Regions from separate parts of the Homo sapiens genome. Here region 2 is linked to region 1. The links come from fine-mapping of genetic effects on gene expression. Tissue or cell type: unexposed skin. Region 1 holds a variant in brackets; the other region holds the start of a gene. All regions are shown on one strand. Distances are between the middles of the regions.

Region 1 (8,262 bases):
CATTTGAAAAAGGAGCCAAATTGGTGAACCTTTTCATTAATATACATAACAAACATTGATTAAACACGTACTATGTGGTAGGCACTATGCTAAGTGCTTAACATTGCAGATGCATATTCACCAGTGAGGCGGGTGGGGTTAACTTCACTTTACAGATGAGGACATTGAGTCTCAGTCTGGGAAAGCATTTTGCCTGGGGTCACCTAGGAGTGATCAGAACCAGCATCTGAACCCAATTCTGTCTGTGAGCCTGTGAACCTGTTCCCCAGGCACAACGCGCTGTCTCCGGCAGCCTTGCTTCCCCTGCTTAAAAGTCACAAAGAACTCCCTGGCCAGAAAGGAAACCCAAGGCCTGGCGTCCTCTACCTCTTTCCCGTGGTGGCCTTGAATGAGAAACCAGAAGAAGCTGGCACATCAGGTGAATGTGGCTTTGACCACTCTCTTTCTCCACGGTTCAGGGCGGACCTTCTTCCAAAAATAGACTTGCCAAAAGTCTTGGCTGTTGTTAGCTCAGAAATAACCTCATTGGGCAGGAGGATCCTGTACCTGGAAATTATGTATTTTCCCACTTCCTGTTTGAGCCCAGGGAGAATGCCACAGGAAAAAGAGAAACAGGTATGGAGACTGTGTGTTCCAGCCTTCCTAAGTGTATTAGTTGGCTGTGGCTGCTAACAAAATACCACAGACTGGGTGGCTTAAATAACGGAAATGCATCTGCTCACTGTTCTGGAGGCCGGAAGTCCAAGCACAAGGTGTCAGCAGGTCTGGTTTCTCCCAGCACCCCTTTTTTTTGGCTTGTAGATGGCATCTCCTTGCTATGTCTTCACATTAGATTAGAGCCCACCCTACAAACAAAACAAAACAAAAACCTCATTTTAGCTTAATCACTTCTCGAAAGACCTTGCCTCCAAATGCAGTCGCATTCTAAAGTGTTGGAGGCTCCCTCTCCCTCTCCCTCTCCCCCTCCCCCTCCCCCTCCCCCTCCCTCTCTTGCCACGGTCTCCCTCTGATGCCGAGCCGAAGCTGGACTGTACTGCTGCCATCTCGGCTCACTGCAACCTCCCTGCCTGATTCTCCTGCCTCAGCCTGCCAAGTGCCTGCGATTGCAGGCGCGCGCCACCACGCCTGACTGGTTTTCGTATTTTTTTGGTGGAGACGGGGTTTCGCTGTGTTGGCTGGGCTGGTCTCCAGCTCCTAACCGCGAGTGATCCGCCAGCCTCGGCCTCCCGAGGTGCCGGGATGGCAGACAGAGTTGCGTTCACTCAGTGCTCAATGGTGCCCAGGCTGGAGTGCAGTGGCGTGATCTCGGCTCGCTACAACCTCCACCTCCCAGCTGCCTGCCTTGGCCCCCCAAAGTGCCGAGATTGCAGCCTCTGCCCGGCCGCCACCCCGTCTGGGAAGTGAGGAGTGTCTCTGCCTGGCCGCCCATCATCTGGGATGTGAGGAGCCTCTCTGCCTGGCTGCCCAGTCTGGAAAGTGAGGAGTGTCTCTGCCCGGCCGCCATCCCATCTAGGAAGTGAGGAGCGTCTCTGCCTGGCCGCCCATCGTCTGAGATGTGGGGAGCGCCTCTGCCCTGCCGCCCCGTCTGGGATGTGAGGAGCGTCTCTGCCCGGCCGCCCCGTCTGAGAAGTGAGGAGACCCTCTGCCTGGCAACTGCCCCGTCTGAGAAGTGAGAAGCCCCTCCGCCCGGCAGCCACACCGTCTGAGAAGTGAGGAGCCCCTCCGCCCGGCAGCCACCCCGTCTGGGAAGTGAGGAGCGTCTCCGCCCGGCAGCCACCCCGTCCGGGAGGGAGGTGGGGGTCAGCCCCCCGCCCGGCCAGCCGCCCCGTCCGGGAGGGAGGTGGGGGGGTCAGCCCCCCGCCCGGCCAGCCGCCCGTCCGGGAGGGAGGTGGGGGGGTCAGCCCCCCGCCCGGCCAGCCGCCCCGTCCGGGAGGTGAGGGGCGCCTCTACCCGGCCGCCCCTACTGGGAAGTGAGGAGCCCCTCTGCCCGGCCAGCCGCCCCGTCCCGGAAGGAGGTGGGGGGGTCAGCCCCCCGCCCTGCCAGCCGCCCCGTCCGGGAGGTGAGGGGCGCCTCTGCCCGGCCGCCTCTACTGGGAAGAGAGGAGCCCCTCTGCCCGGCCAGCCGCCCCGTCCGGGAGGGAGGTTGGGGGGTCAGCCCCCCGCCCGGCCAGCTGCCCCATCTGGGAGGGAGGTGGGGGGGTCAGCCCCCCGCCCGGCCAGCTGCCCCGTCCGGGAGGGAGGTGGGGGGGTCAGCCCCCCACCCGCCAGCCGCCCCGTCCGGGAGGGAAGTGGGGGGGGGTCAGCCCCCCGCCCGGCCAGCTGCCCCATCCGGGAGGTGAGGGGTGCCTCTGCCCGGCCACCCCTACTGGGAAGTGAGGAGCCCCTCTGCCCGGCCAGCCGCCCCGTCTGGGAGGGAGGTGGGGGGGTCAGCCCCCCGCCCAGCCAGCCACCCCATCCGGGAGGTGAGGGGCGCCTCTGCCCGGCCGCCCCTACTGGGAAGTGAGGAGCCTCTCTGCCCGGCCACCACCCCGTCTGGGAGGTGTACTCAACAGCTCATTGAGAACAGGCCATGATGACAATGGCGGTTTTGTGGAATAGAAAGGGGGGAAAAGTGGGGAAAAGATTGAGAAATCGGATGGTTGCCGTGTCTGTGTAGAAAGAGGTAGACATGGGAGACTTTTCATTTTGTTCTGTACTAAGAAAAATTCTTCTGCCTTGGGATCCTGTTAATCTGTGACCTTACCCCCAACCCTGTGCTCTCTGAAACATGTGCTGTGTCCACTCAGGGTTGAATGGATTAAGGGTGGTGCAAGATGTGCTTTGTTAAACAGATGCTTGAAGGCAGCATGCTGGTTAAGAGTCATCGCCACTCCCTAATCTCAAGTACCCAGGGACACAAACACTGCGGAAGGCTGCAGGGTCCTCTGCCTAGGAAAACCAGAGACCTTTGTTCACTTGTTTATCTGCTGACCTTCCCTCCACTATTGTCCTGTGACCCTGCTAAATCTCCCTCTGCGAGAAACACCCAAGAATGATCAATAAAAAAAAGAAAAAAAAAAGTGTTGGAGGTTAGGACTTCAACACAGGAATTTAGGAGAGAACAAAATTCAGCCCATAACACCAGGTAAATAGCCAAATGAATGGGTGCTGGTGAGAAGCACCAAGACCTAAATTCTTATTCAGACTCAGTCACTGCTCAGCCTCCTGATCACACTCCAACTCAAGTTGTCACCCATAAAATCAGAATAATGTCACCCTGTGCACTTACCTCCCTGGATTATTTTGAATATCAAATGTCCGATGAAAGTAAGAACTGCTACATGGCAGCAAGGCTTTGCTTTTAGATAATCCATCAGTGATAAGAGATGGCAAACTTTTTGTATGTTTCTCATAACCTTTTCTCTCTTTATAGGAGTAATATACACCCATTGTCCATCCTTTTCATACCATATAATTGAGATTATCCTGTAAAGAGCTATATAAGCTGCTTCTACATATCATAGTATATTGTATATTGGTTTCCTCAGGCTGCATAAATTACTACAGATTTGGTGGCTTAAAAAAACAGACAGTTATTCTCGTACAGTTCAGAAGAGAAGTCCAAATCAAGGCATCAGCAGGGTTTGTTCCTTCTGCGGACCCTGAGGGAAAATTCACTGCATACCTTTCTCCTAGGTTCTGGCAGCTTCCAGCAATCCTTGGCATTTCTTGGCTTGTAGACGCATCCCTGCAATCTCTGCTTCCGTCTTCACCTGGCATTCTCCCCGGAGTCCCAAGATTTCTTGTCTCTGTGTCCCAAATTTCCCTCTACTTTATTTTATTTTATTTTATTTTATTGATTGATTGAGATGGAATCTTGCTTTGTCACCCAGGCTGGAGTACAGTGGCGTGGTTTTGGCTCACTGCAACCTCCGCCTCCCAGCTTCAAGTGATTCTCTCTCCTCAGCCTCCTGAATAGCTGAGACTACAGATGCATACTGCCACATGCAGCTAATTTTTGTATTTTTAGTAGAGACAGGGTTTCACCGTGTTAGTCAGGCTGGTCTCCAACTCCTAACCTCGAGTGACCCACCCACCTTGGCCCCCAAAGTGCTGGATTACAGGCGTTAGCCACCATGACTGGCCCCCATATTTACTTTTTTTTTTTTTTTTTTTTTTTTTTTTTTTTTTTTTGAGACGGAGTCTTGCTCTGTCATCCAGGCTGGAGTGCAGTGGCATGATCTCGGCTCACTGCAAGCTCCGCCTCCCTGGTTCATGCCATTCTCCTGCCTCAGCCTCCCGAGTAGCTAGGACTACAGGCACCCACCACCACACCCAGCTAATTTTTTTGTATTTTTAGTAGAGACAGGGTTTCACCATGTTAGCCAGGATGGTCTCAATCTCCTGACTTTGTGATCCACCCGCCTCGGCCTCCCAAAGTGCTGGGATTACAGGCATGAGCCACCACACCCGGCCCCTCTATTTACTTTTAAAAGGACACCAGTCATTTGACTTAGGGTCAAGTCTAAATGCAAGATGATCTCATCTAAAGTTCCTTAACTCAATTACATCTGCAGAGACCCCGTTTTCCAAATAAAGTCATATTCACAGGCACCAGGGGTTAGAACATGGACATAACTTTTGAGGGACACAGTTCAACCCCCTACACATAGTATCATGTACACATTCTCAAGTTATTAACAATTCCTAAAACAATCAGTGTTTCAGAATATCTCCTCATGGGGCTGTGGTATGATGTATCTGACACTGCAGTTGCCAGACTCCTGTGATTCTGACCTCTTACATCACTGCAAAGCAATACCTGACTTTGCAT[A/G]TGCCCTGTGGTATTACAAGGGTGAGCCACCAGCTTGAGTCTTTATTGCCTGGGCCTTTATTTCTTTTCCTTTTTTCCATTAGTTGTTTTTTATTTTTATTTTTATTTCTTTTGAGACAGAGTTTCACTGTGTTGCCCAGGCTGGAGTGCAGTGGTGCAATCCTGGCTCACTGCAACCTCCACCTCCCAGGTTTAAGCGATTCTCCTGCCTCAGCCTTGCGAGTAGCTGAGATTATAGGCACCCACCACCAGCCTCGGCTAATGGTTGTATTGTTAGTAGAGACGGGGTTTCACCATGTTGGCCAGGCTGGTCTTGAACTCCTGACCTCAGTGATCTGCCCACCTCGGCCTCCCAAAATGCTGGGATTACAGGCGTGAGCCACCACACCTGGCCAGATTGTTTTCATTGTTTCTGTTTTTCTTATTAAATAAATGTTATATATCTAGCATAGGGATTTTAGAAAAGGAGCCCAGTGATGGTCCTCTCCTTGGTTCTCAACCCTGTGATCTTTGTGTTTTAACCCCTGCCCTGTCACTTTAGGGATCTGGAAGCGGGAAGGAGACATCTGCGAGTGCTCAGATGACTATCTCGATACACTCAGGGTGTATTTTCTGGGGTGACTGTAGGGGCATCTCGGTTCATTTGGTGGCAAATCCAACTTTTCTATTCCCTAACGAGGACTTTGCTGCCTTTATGATTTTTCTCTCACTGCCTGCTTTTGGAAAAATCTTCTGACAGTTATATTTACCAGTAGAACTAGAAGGGAATGCTTCAGTCTATCCTGTGTTTAGAGTCATGGAGTTGGAGGAGGTTTGGGTGGGAATCTGAGTGACAGCCAAGGAGAAGGAGATAGGGCCGTCTTGGGGTTTTCTGCAGTCTCAGACTCTGGGTCTTTGTATGACCCTTGGGAACATGAAGCAGCCAGGGAATGGAGCCAGGACCACTTTACCCCAGCAAGACTCCCAAGCTATATCTTCAAAGGTCTGAGGGACATGGTGCATTCACTTGTCTTCTGCTACCCACAGATGACCAGCTCTGTGAAGGAGGCATCCCCTGGCTTGGGTAGGCAGAAAGTGTTGGAAAGGAATTGAAGTAACATTTCAGTTTGAAGGTTTTGTAACAGATGGTGGTGGCAGCTGCTCTAGGAGAGACAAATGAAGTTAGTGAAATGGTCCTTCATTCAGTCTACCTTGTGCATCCATCCATTTAGCCAACTGTGTTGATACGTATGATGAACCAGGCCCCATGTCGCACACTGGGATGATAAAGAGAGAACACCTGGCCACAGCGTCTGGAAACTCCTTATCTAAGAAGAGGGACAGACTCATGCCCACATGATGAGTTCTGTTGAGTACCAAGGTAGCAGAAAAGGGGAGCTTTGAACTCCATTTGGGAGTAGCCAGGGAAGATGGCCTTTCTGCAAGATTCTTGAGGGAATGATCAGGCACTCAGGCCTGGGAGGGGAGAAGACATCAGACGTCAGGGGATGGTCAGATGCCTGTGCAGAAGGTAAAATGAAATCTGTCAGATAAAATCTACAAAAGAATAGCGGTTGGAGAGTTGTGGGCACAACAAATGCAAAGACCATCCTGGATAAAGTTAAGTTGGCAGGAAGCAAGAGAAAAAGGGGAAAGAAAGTATCAGTATGCAGTCGCTAGAAAGGATAGGACAAAATAACCCAACTTGGAAGGCCCCAGAAAGACAAATGATTCAAGAAGCACCGTCTGTGTCTGAGACGCTGTCCCTGCACAGCAGTGTTGTCCAGCTGGTGAGAGATGAGGATGAGAGGGAGTTTGAATCTGTTCGCTGCTCCTATCTACCTGTTGAAAATGTCAGAGCTGTGAGTCTGCTTCTGGGCTGGTGGCCAGGGTCTGTGGCTCCCAGCGCTGTAGTGTCCTGCCACGTTTGTCTCAGTTGGTAATTGGGTAGAAAACCATCTCCTGGGGCTTGGTGACCAGGGTATGAGGGCACTGAACACAGTGCCAGAGCTTCCAGAAGTGCTGGGGCAGGTGCATCCCTTGCTGACTTGGGGCCCCATTGAGGCTCTGCGTCTGTTCCTCATGACTCATGAATGTGTTCCTCATGACTGTTCCTCATGACTCATGTTCCTCATGACTCATGACTCATGAATGTGGCTGAATTGAGGGCTAAAGCCCTGGGTCTCTCTTACAGCATTGCTTTGGCATTCACCAGGCCAGGGCAGGCGTGAACGGTGGAATAGGGAGTGTGGTAGGATGAGGTGGAAGGTGGGGTGTCCTTTTTCATTCCCCAAAACAGCTTTCTTGAACTATCCACCAGGCTGCAGGGGGTATCGTTTACCTGGGGACTGTGTGGTGTCCCATCTCTAGGGAAGAACAATGTTGCCTCCTAGTGGCTGTGTCTGTCTTGGACACCGGTATCTGAGAACTGAGAACAATATTTGTTCCATAAATGAGGCATGAATATTACTCTTTAAAGATTCCCTGTTGAAGGCAGGCACAGTGGCTCACACGTGTAATCTCAACACTTTGGGAGGCTGAGGCAGCAGGATCACTTGGGGCCAGGAGTTTGAGAACAGCCAGGGCAACAAAGTGAGACCTCATCTCTACAAAAAAATTAAAAATTAGCCAGGCGTGGTACCACACGCCTGTAGTCCCAGCTACCCAGGAGGCTGAGGTGGGAGGATCACTTGCACCCAGGAGTCCCAGGCTGCCGTGTGTTATAATTGTACCAGTGCACTCCAGCGTGGGTGGTAGAGCGAGACCTTGTCTCTTTAAAAAAAAATAAAAAAGGCAAGACCATCCTGGCTAACACAGTGAAACCCCATCTCTACTAAAAATACAAAAAAAATTAGCCGGGCGTGGTGGCGGGCGCCTGTAGTCCCAGCTACTTGGGAGGCTGAGGCAGGAGAATGGTGTGAACCCAGGAGGCAGAGGTTGCCGTGAGCCAAGATTGAGCCACTGCACTCCAGCCTGGGCAACAGAGCAAGACTCTGTTTCAAAAAAATAAATAAATAAAAAATTAAAAAGGAAAGAAAGAAAGAAAGATCCCTTGTTGAAGCTGAATGCCCATGCCCAAATTCTGGCCTTCTCTCTACCTCCTGCTTTTGCAGTAGCTTTCTAATGAGCCTTCCTGACCTCCAGTCCTTGTCACTGAAAGCCCAGTCCTGCTTGTCTTGCTGTCTGTGTTCAAACACACAATAGCCCCTCATTGCCAGTAGCATAAAGCTGAATCTCTTACTGGACATGGAAAGTTCTCCGAGGTCTGATCTGTTCACCACATGCACCCATAGGCACCTCTGAACAATCCTTGGTTTCCCACCTTTCAGGCACACTTTTCTGTCTGTCTAGAACGCCCTCACCAGTCTAGCCAGGCCAGAGGTTTCCAGTTGTTCAAATTGTAATTCACATGGTGCTGTTTCAGTGAATCATGCTCATATCTGGGAATGACCTGAATTCTATCCCAGCTC
Region 2 (8,000 bases), 620 kb before region 1:
CTTTTCCCCATTTGCTTACACCCCAAATCAACTGCAGCTTCTAGAGCTGGTCTCAGGGGAGGCAGGTAGAGAAGTTTTCTTTTGCATCAGGATTGGCCACCCCAGTGGGGCAGATGGAAATAATTTTCAGATCTAAGACCTGTCATTAGGTCCCAGGCACCATTATGTTGGCCATTTCTGTCTAGCCAGTATAACCCAGATGTGGATAAGATTAAGTCAAATCCATTGTCCATGCCAATGGCATTCTAAAGCCCTCCCCAAGACTTCTGCATATTCCTGAGGGACTTACGCGCTCTAGGTCACCTCTGCTTCTGGGCTCCCATGTCTAAGGTGCTTTGTTCACAGGTTATTGACCCAGATATAACACCCAGCCCTGTCTTCAGTTTCCACTGAAAGCTTATGCTCAAGGGCATTCATGAAAGTAAAACATTTTACTAAAGAGTTGGAGGTCACAGAGAGAGGTAAGATTATGCTCCATGAAATATACAGATTAAAATATGTTAGACACTGATAAAAGTCTGATGTACCAGATGCTCTGAAAAATCCTGTTGGCCAATTAGTCCTCAGCAGCTGAACTCCCTTGTTTCCCTCCATTCACCATCCAGCCTTCCACCTTCTCCCTCTCATTCCCCCTTCCTGTCCCATCCCTCTCAGAAATGGAGGTCAAAACTTCAAATGCTAGTAAGGATTAGCAGGTATTAAACATATGGGTTGAGAGGTGGAGTGTCAGACCCTAGAGAGGATCCAGCCTACCTCAAGACATTCAGGTTCAAAACACTCTGAAGCACTTGTGTCCTACTAAATAAATTCTGCAGGCCTTTTGGCTCCAAAGGCTGCCAGTTTCTGGTCTATCAGCACAGTCTCCCTCTTTGCCACAACCAGCCAAGAAGCAGCAACAATGCCAGTAAAACAGGAGCTAGCAAGGGCTCTCTTTCCCCTGCTTCATGTGCATCCTGAAACCCTAACAAAGTTAGATGTCCATCAGCATAATCAGTCCATGTGCTGGATGTGTGAATATATGTCCTCCAGGTAACGGAGGAACTTGGGTTCAGAAACTAGACAGCCTGAGCTCACCCTGGGCTCCACTACTCTGCCAGTGTAGTTGTTTATTTATTTATTGTGGAAAATATATACATAACAAAAAATTACCTTTCAAATCGTTTTTTGTTTGGTTTTTTTTTGTTTTGTTTTGTTTTGGAGACAGAGTCTCACTCTGTCGCCCAAGCTGGAGTGCAGTGGCGCGATCTTGGCTCCCTGCAAGCTCCACCTCCCAGGTTCACACCATTCTCCTGCCTCAGCCTCCCGAGTAGCTGGGACTACAGGCGCCTGCCACCACGCCCAGCTAATTTTTTGTATTTTTAGTAGAGACAGGGTTTCACTGTGTTAGCCAGGATGGCCTCGATCTCCTGACCTCGTGATCTGCCCGCCCTGGCCTCCCAAAGTGCTGGGATTATAGGCATGAGCCACTGCGCCTGCCTCAAATCGTTTTTAAGTGCATGGTTCAGTGGCATAAGTACATTCATACTATTGTGCAACCATCACCACCATCTATCTCCAGAACTTTTTGCTATTCCACATTGAAACTCTGTACCCATCAAATAATAACTCCCATTCCATCTTCTCCTGGGCCCTGGCAATTACCACCCTACTTTCTGTCTACATGAATTTGACTATTCTAAGTACCTCATATAAGTGGCATCACAGAACATTTGTCTTTTTGTGTCTGGCTTCTTTCACTTAGCATAAGGTCTTAAGGTTCATCTGTGTTATAGCACGTATCAGAATATCCTTTATTTTTAAGGCTGAATAATATTCCGTCGTAGGTGTATACTGTATCTTGTTTATCAATGGACATTCGGGTTGTTTCCACCTTTTGGCTATTGGGAATAATGCTGCTATGAACATTGATGTAAACATATCTAATCAAGTCCCTGCTTTCAATTCTTTTGTGTATACACCCAGAAATTGAATTGCTAAATCAAATGGTAATTCTATGTTCAATTTTTGGGGGAACCATACTTGTATATCCTTAAACCTCTGTGTATCATAGAACCTCTCTGAACCTCATCTGTAAAACACGGATAATAACAGCAATGCCATTTCAGGGTGGTCTGAGAATTAATGCATATGAAGCCTTTGGCTCAAAGACTGGACACATTAATAAATGTTCACTAAATGTTTGCTTGATGTTTAATCTCTTCATCCTCTGAATTGAGGGACTCATACTAAAATAATTTCTAAAGTCACTCTCAGCTCCTAAACTCCATGATCCCATCATTAAATTATTTTCCTGTTGGGGATGCCAGGAGCTCTCAGATTGTATATTAGGGGAACACCCTCTTCATGATCCCCGCAAAAATCCACCCGTGCCAAGAAGGCCCAATTTTCCTAGCTTTCTCCTAGGAATTTGCCAACATATCCCAGTGTAATCTCACATCTCATTTTTCTTGCCACTCCTTCTCCCTTGCTTTCTTTCCATGTTTCCTTTCTCGGCTGGCTTTTCCTGCCCACTGAATATCTGCACTTCAAATTATCTTCCCTGGTTGCATTTATGTTCATTCCCCACAAGTTAATGTCTGTTGGAAGCAACACTTGTGAAGTTCTCCAGATTAAGTTTTCATTCCCAAGAGTCCCATATTTTAAATGAGGTTTTCCTCTTCGGCAGAATCACACTGGCAGAGCTACCGCAATTTGGTGAAGTCAGTGGAGTTGGGTTTCTCCCCTCATTCTGTTTATGTTGGGTTATCGCTTGGCCTCATGTTTGGATTCTCATCCTCCCAACATGTGTCACATGCCAGTGAGAAACAACACTCTCTGGTACCATCCCAGTGGATGTTTACAATTCAGCAAATACTCTTTTTAGAAAAGTTAATTAGAGGAAATACGCTTCCAAGCTTTTCTTGCCTGGGGCCAGATTCAGCATCCCAGCAGGGAGTGGACTTCCTTCACTCCTTGAGGAAATATTTTCCTTCTCCACGCTATTCCTCCGTCTTCCCTCGAAATGTGAGTAAAACATTCAACAACTAAAATATCCTTGCTAAACACATGAAGCTGCGCTCTGGTTCAGGCAGCAGTTTAGCTACCAACAAACTGCGTATCCTCTCTGAAGCTTTTTCACAGCCAAAGGTAAAAGAGGTTCTCGGGTCAGAAATAAATGGATTTTTCAGATTCTGGGCTAGGAAAAAGAGCCAGCTCAGGTTTTTTTATTTTCTTTTAAACTTTTATGGCTTTGAAGCGCCTCACCTGCCATGTAATAAAACAGGAAGCAGGGGAACGCTGATGTAACCCTGAGGAATCAAATCCACTGAGCCCTGGCACTCTGAGAAGAACCAGGTCCTCTGGAGCTGGTCCACCGACACCATGCAAAGGCGAAGATGAAGTAGGGAGGTGCCTTAATGCAAAGTCACCCACTTACCCCTAGGCAAGTGTTTAGGTTTATGGATTGTCAGCCCTTATGAAGGGCTCCTTCTTCCTTTATTATTGTCTTTGGGCTGCTCCAGACACCATGGAGGCAAAATTCAAATGAAACACTCACCATCTTTATTGTAAATCATTAAGGAAGATCCTACCTGGGCAGGCAGGCTCTAGGTAGATGGAAAGTATTGACCAAAATGAAGGGCAGGGGGGTTTGTGTATCTCAGCTTTTCGTTGATCATGAAGGGATGTGCCTATGGCTAAGTTTCCCTTCTACACAGGTTATTGCATTTAGTATCCTCCCCACCCGACCTGGCCTGTTTCATTCTCAGGCACTTGCCAGCTACTTGCAGCGGCAGAGCACCCAGCTCTCAGATAGAGTTCAGGTGACAGGTAACCAGCACAGAAGGGAAGCAGCGAAGGCTCGTACATAACCTGCCCCTATTCAGAGCTGCCCCGTTTGGTCATTTCTGTACATCTCGGCCTGCCCTCATCTCATGAGGTCTCACTTTACCCCCTGGGCCATAGAAGGACAGATGTTCCTATGACGTTCCCACTTCCCCGCCTGCCAGCAAGCAGGATCTGCCATGTCCTCGCTTCTGCCCTTAGCTGGATCTCCGTATCATGTCCCAGCCTCATTTGTCCCCAGAAGCCCATTTGACCTGGGGATTGTGGCTTAGAAAATGATATATGAAAACCAAAGAAGCCAGAGCTCTTTCAAAACAAACCCTATGCATCCCAGAAACAATCTGCACTTTTAACCTTGGCTTTTTCTTCTTTCTCACTCTCATCAGAAAGGAAGTGTGTCTATATATGCTGAGTGAGTCAATCTCCTGTGCTTGGATCTACTCCGAAGGGGTATGGCTGTAGGAGTTCGTGAAGCAAGATTCACCAGAAGAACACCAAGCAAGCCCTGCTCTTTATTCCTTTCTTTCTTTCCCTCTCTTCTTTCTTTCTTGCTCACCTCTGAGGGAGCCCTTTCCAAGAGAAACTTCGCTTTTGCAAGTCAGAGCGGGTAACTCAGAATTGATTCCCTAAGGCAATTTGGTACTTTTAAAATGATAAAAAGAGCAAATAAAATAGGAGCTGGTCCGCTTTCCTGAGACAGTACAGCCCCACGATTTGGGATGACAAAACCACGTCACAGTCTCAGGGAGGGCCACAGGAGCTCCAGCACCACCAGCCAAGTCCCTAAAATTATCACTGGAAAAGCACCACCCCCCCTCAACCCCTCACCCCAAACACACACAGCCCACCTCCTGAGACTCCCAGTCCTGCTCCCAGGCAGACCCCAGGAGGAAAATGCTCCCTCCTAGGGTGTCCTCCTAGGGTGTCCCGGACGCTACTCACAGTACCTCTTGGCAAGGACGAGATGAGAAGGAGCTGAAGAAAAGTGAGCCCCAACTGCGTCCAGCAACCCAGCTCCATCCTTGCCGCGGCTGGTGCCCGAGCGTCTACTGGGGAGGGAGAGGAGGGACCCAGGGAGGCCGGGGGCAGGCGGGTTTTACAGGGACCTCCCCGAGCCCCAGCTGAGCGGGAGCTCGGGTTTCAGCTCGCCAGGCTCTCCCATCCTCATCTGAGGGGAACCACCTTCAGCCAGAGCGACGTCAGCCCAAACCTCTCCTCTCTGCTGCCTTAACCCTTGCGGGGCCCCGGGAGGTGTGGCCACGCCTGGAGACCCGCGGACGGCGGCTGCAAAGGAAGCTGCGGGGGAGGGAGGCCAGCCTGGGTACAGGTGGGGTCCCAGTGTTGGGTGCTGGGAGGAGGGGCCATAGGACCCTGGGCGGGAGCAGAGGTACCCAGGGCTGCGGGGCGCTCAGGTGAGGCCGGGAGATCTTCCTACGGGAGGCTGAGACGGGAGCTGGCTTTGCCCTCTCTGACTGCACGCGGGGAGCCTGATTAAAAGCCTGGCCTGAGGAGAAGGAGGAGTTGGTGATGGGAGGAGAAAGGGAGCCTCCCTCCACTCCGCACGCAACACTCCTCGTTTATCTCCTTTCCTCTCCGTTTGCTCCAGGTGATCACAGGTTGGAAAGCTTATTATCTTTTGCAACTACAGGCTACTGGAAAAAGTTTTCCTCTTCCTATGATCCCCGTCATGGTGAATTCAGCGACATAAGCAGCTCCTGAGCTACTGGAAAAAGTTTTCCTCTTCCTGTGATCCCCACGATGGTGAATTCAGCAACATAAATAGCTCCTGCGCACACGCCAGGCAGGGATGGCGAAGAACACACAAGAACCCTCACTGCCTCCACCAAAAGGGCTCAGTTTAGGTACAAGATAGCAAGTGACATCTCGAAATGAGGAAGAAGGATGTTTCATAATAGGTGACTTTTTAAAATAAACTCCTCCGTGCCAGGTGTCATGTACCTTACATGTATTAACTCAATTATTCCTCACAATAAACCTAGCCTCTGTATTTTACAATTAGAGAAACGGAACCATTGAGGATTACAATAACTCATCCAAGGCCACACAGTTAGTGAGGGGCAGAGCCAGGGTTTGAACCCGGGCAGCTTAGGCCCACAGGCTATAGTCTTAGCCACTAGGCTATAGAGCTTCTTAGGATGCTACATATGCAGAATTGTATTTCACCATTTGATATGGCTTCGCTGTGTCCCCACCCAAACCTCATCTTGAATTGTGGTTCCCATAAACCCCACGTGTCATGGGAGGGACCAGGTGGAGATAATTGAATCATGGGGACAGTTACCCCCATAAAAGTTTTAATTTTGTTCTCTAGATGTTGGCGGGCCCTGGTGGTTTACAAGTAGGGTGTGCTGAGCTCAAAGCAAAGTCTCGGGAAGAGAAGTCACCCTGGACTATTGATGAAGGCCTGGAGTAAGGATTAAGAAATGGAAGTGGAAGGGAAAAGATAAGGGGAGAAACCTGAGGAAGGTAGAATCTGTAAAGCTCAGGACAGATCAGAAGGTCAGGAGCCCTGACACAGGTGCTCTACTAGAAAGAATTTCTGAACTCCAGCCCTGCTTCTGGGGGCCTATTGCAGTGAAGTGACTGGAAGCAAGAACTCAGCAGGCCTGTGTTCTAATTTTGTTGATTCACCACTTTCTGGCTGTGTGACCTTAAGCAAGTTAACTCTCTGAATCTCAGTCTTCTCATCTATAAAATGGAAATAATAATCAAACCTACTTTGTAGATCACTGGAAGAATTTAATAAGATTACGCATGTAAGGCCCATAGCACAGAGCCTACCACATATTAAGTGCACACTAAATATTAATCATTATCTCTATTATCTGACCTGAGACTGCCCCCAAGAACATCTCATGGTATGAGTCTTGTTCCTACACTCAACTTCCATATCGAGATGAAATCAGTTAAAATAAGCACCAAGAGTAGCCTTAAACAGGAGCAGAATACCAGAGGGCAGCATATACCTAAGAGGTAGAGGGCAGAGGTTCGAAGAAGGGAGGTTCACCTTGTTGCTGGCCAACCAGTCCTGGTCCTTTGGTGATGGGAGTGGGAAGAAGATGACTTAGTTCCCAAATAACTGTAGGCATAAGAGCCTCTCAGGAGTCTGTTTCAACTCCAGCTGACGGCACCTGAGCTTTACAGATTCTACCTTCCTCAGGTTTCTCCCCTTATCTTTTCCCTTCCACTTCCATTTCTTAATCTTTACTCCAGGCCTTCATCAATAGTCCAGGGTGACTTCTCTTCCCAAGACTTTGCTTCGAGCTCAGCACACCTTACTCCTAAACCACCAGGGCCCACCAACATCTAGAGAACAAAATGAAAACTTTTATGGGGGTAACTGTCCCCATGATTCAACTATCTCCACCTGGTCCTTCCCATGACACGTGGGGTTTCTTTTCATCTTCCCTCTCCCCACCTCCCAGCCCCCACCACACACACCTCTCTGAGTCAATACCAAGCAGCCTCATCCCTACATGAATTGCATCCCCCTGACAGAATGGGGCTCTAAGTGATGAACCTGAAGGATAGCAGTCTATACCACCCCCAAATATGCCCCTTTGGCATAAGGATTATTTTGAGCTGAAAGCAGTTAAGAAGAAGTAGATACAAGAATAGGTCTCTGTTCTCCCCCCATTTTCCTAAAAGCAGACTTGAATTTATAAAAGTATAGTGTCTCCACCTCCCCTCTCTACCAGGACGGACAGAAGTTAATCATTGGAGACAACCCTAGACCCTTATCAGCCCAGAGGAATCTACATACCAAAACTTACTAACTAGTCTTATCTCCCATTAGGACCCCCATTTATTTATCTTCCCATAATTTGCTACCCCTAGAAGCTCAAAGTCCTTTTTGTTTGTCTTGCCACTTCTCTGCAAATTTATTGTTCTTTTTAAAAATGCAATATGAACCCAAATTCTAACCATCTCTTTGAGTTACTCCTCACTAGGTATTTCAACATGTAAGCACCATGCACAAGTTAATAAAAAACTTTTGTTTGTTTTTCTCTTGTTAATCTGTTTTTTCTTTTTTTTGTCATTCTAATTTACAGGGCCACAGCCAAGGAATCTAAGATGGGTAGGGAAGAAAGATTATTTTTCCTTCCCAACAAACCTGTTTGGCTATTTGCTAAGGAAGTCCCTGGTACCAGGTCTTT

The links. PIP is the estimated chance that this variant, and not a neighbour inherited with it, causes the effect.
Region 2: PAMR1 starts here. The variant in region 1 is fine-mapped to the expression of PAMR1 in unexposed skin (GTEx, PIP 0.96).

What each region holds. Positions count from the first base shown.
Region 1 is chr11:36,142,963-36,151,224 of GRCh38, forward strand. All of the region lies in intron 4 of LDLRAD3 (low density lipoprotein receptor class A domain containing 3), which reads left to right. Among named protein-coding and RNA genes, the nearest start is that of MIR3973, 140 kb to the left of the region's middle. RefSeq lists enhancers at 693-1,300, 6,316-7,515, 6,455-7,028, 6,908-7,087. The variant A/G (reference allele first, on the strand shown) is at 4,814.
Region 2 is chr11:35,520,744-35,528,743 of GRCh38, forward strand. It overlaps PAMR1 (peptidase domain containing associated with muscle regeneration 1), which reads right to left and starts at 4,873. Exons shown (of 11, transcript NM_001001991.3): 1 at 4,770-4,873. The coding sequence starts at 4,842.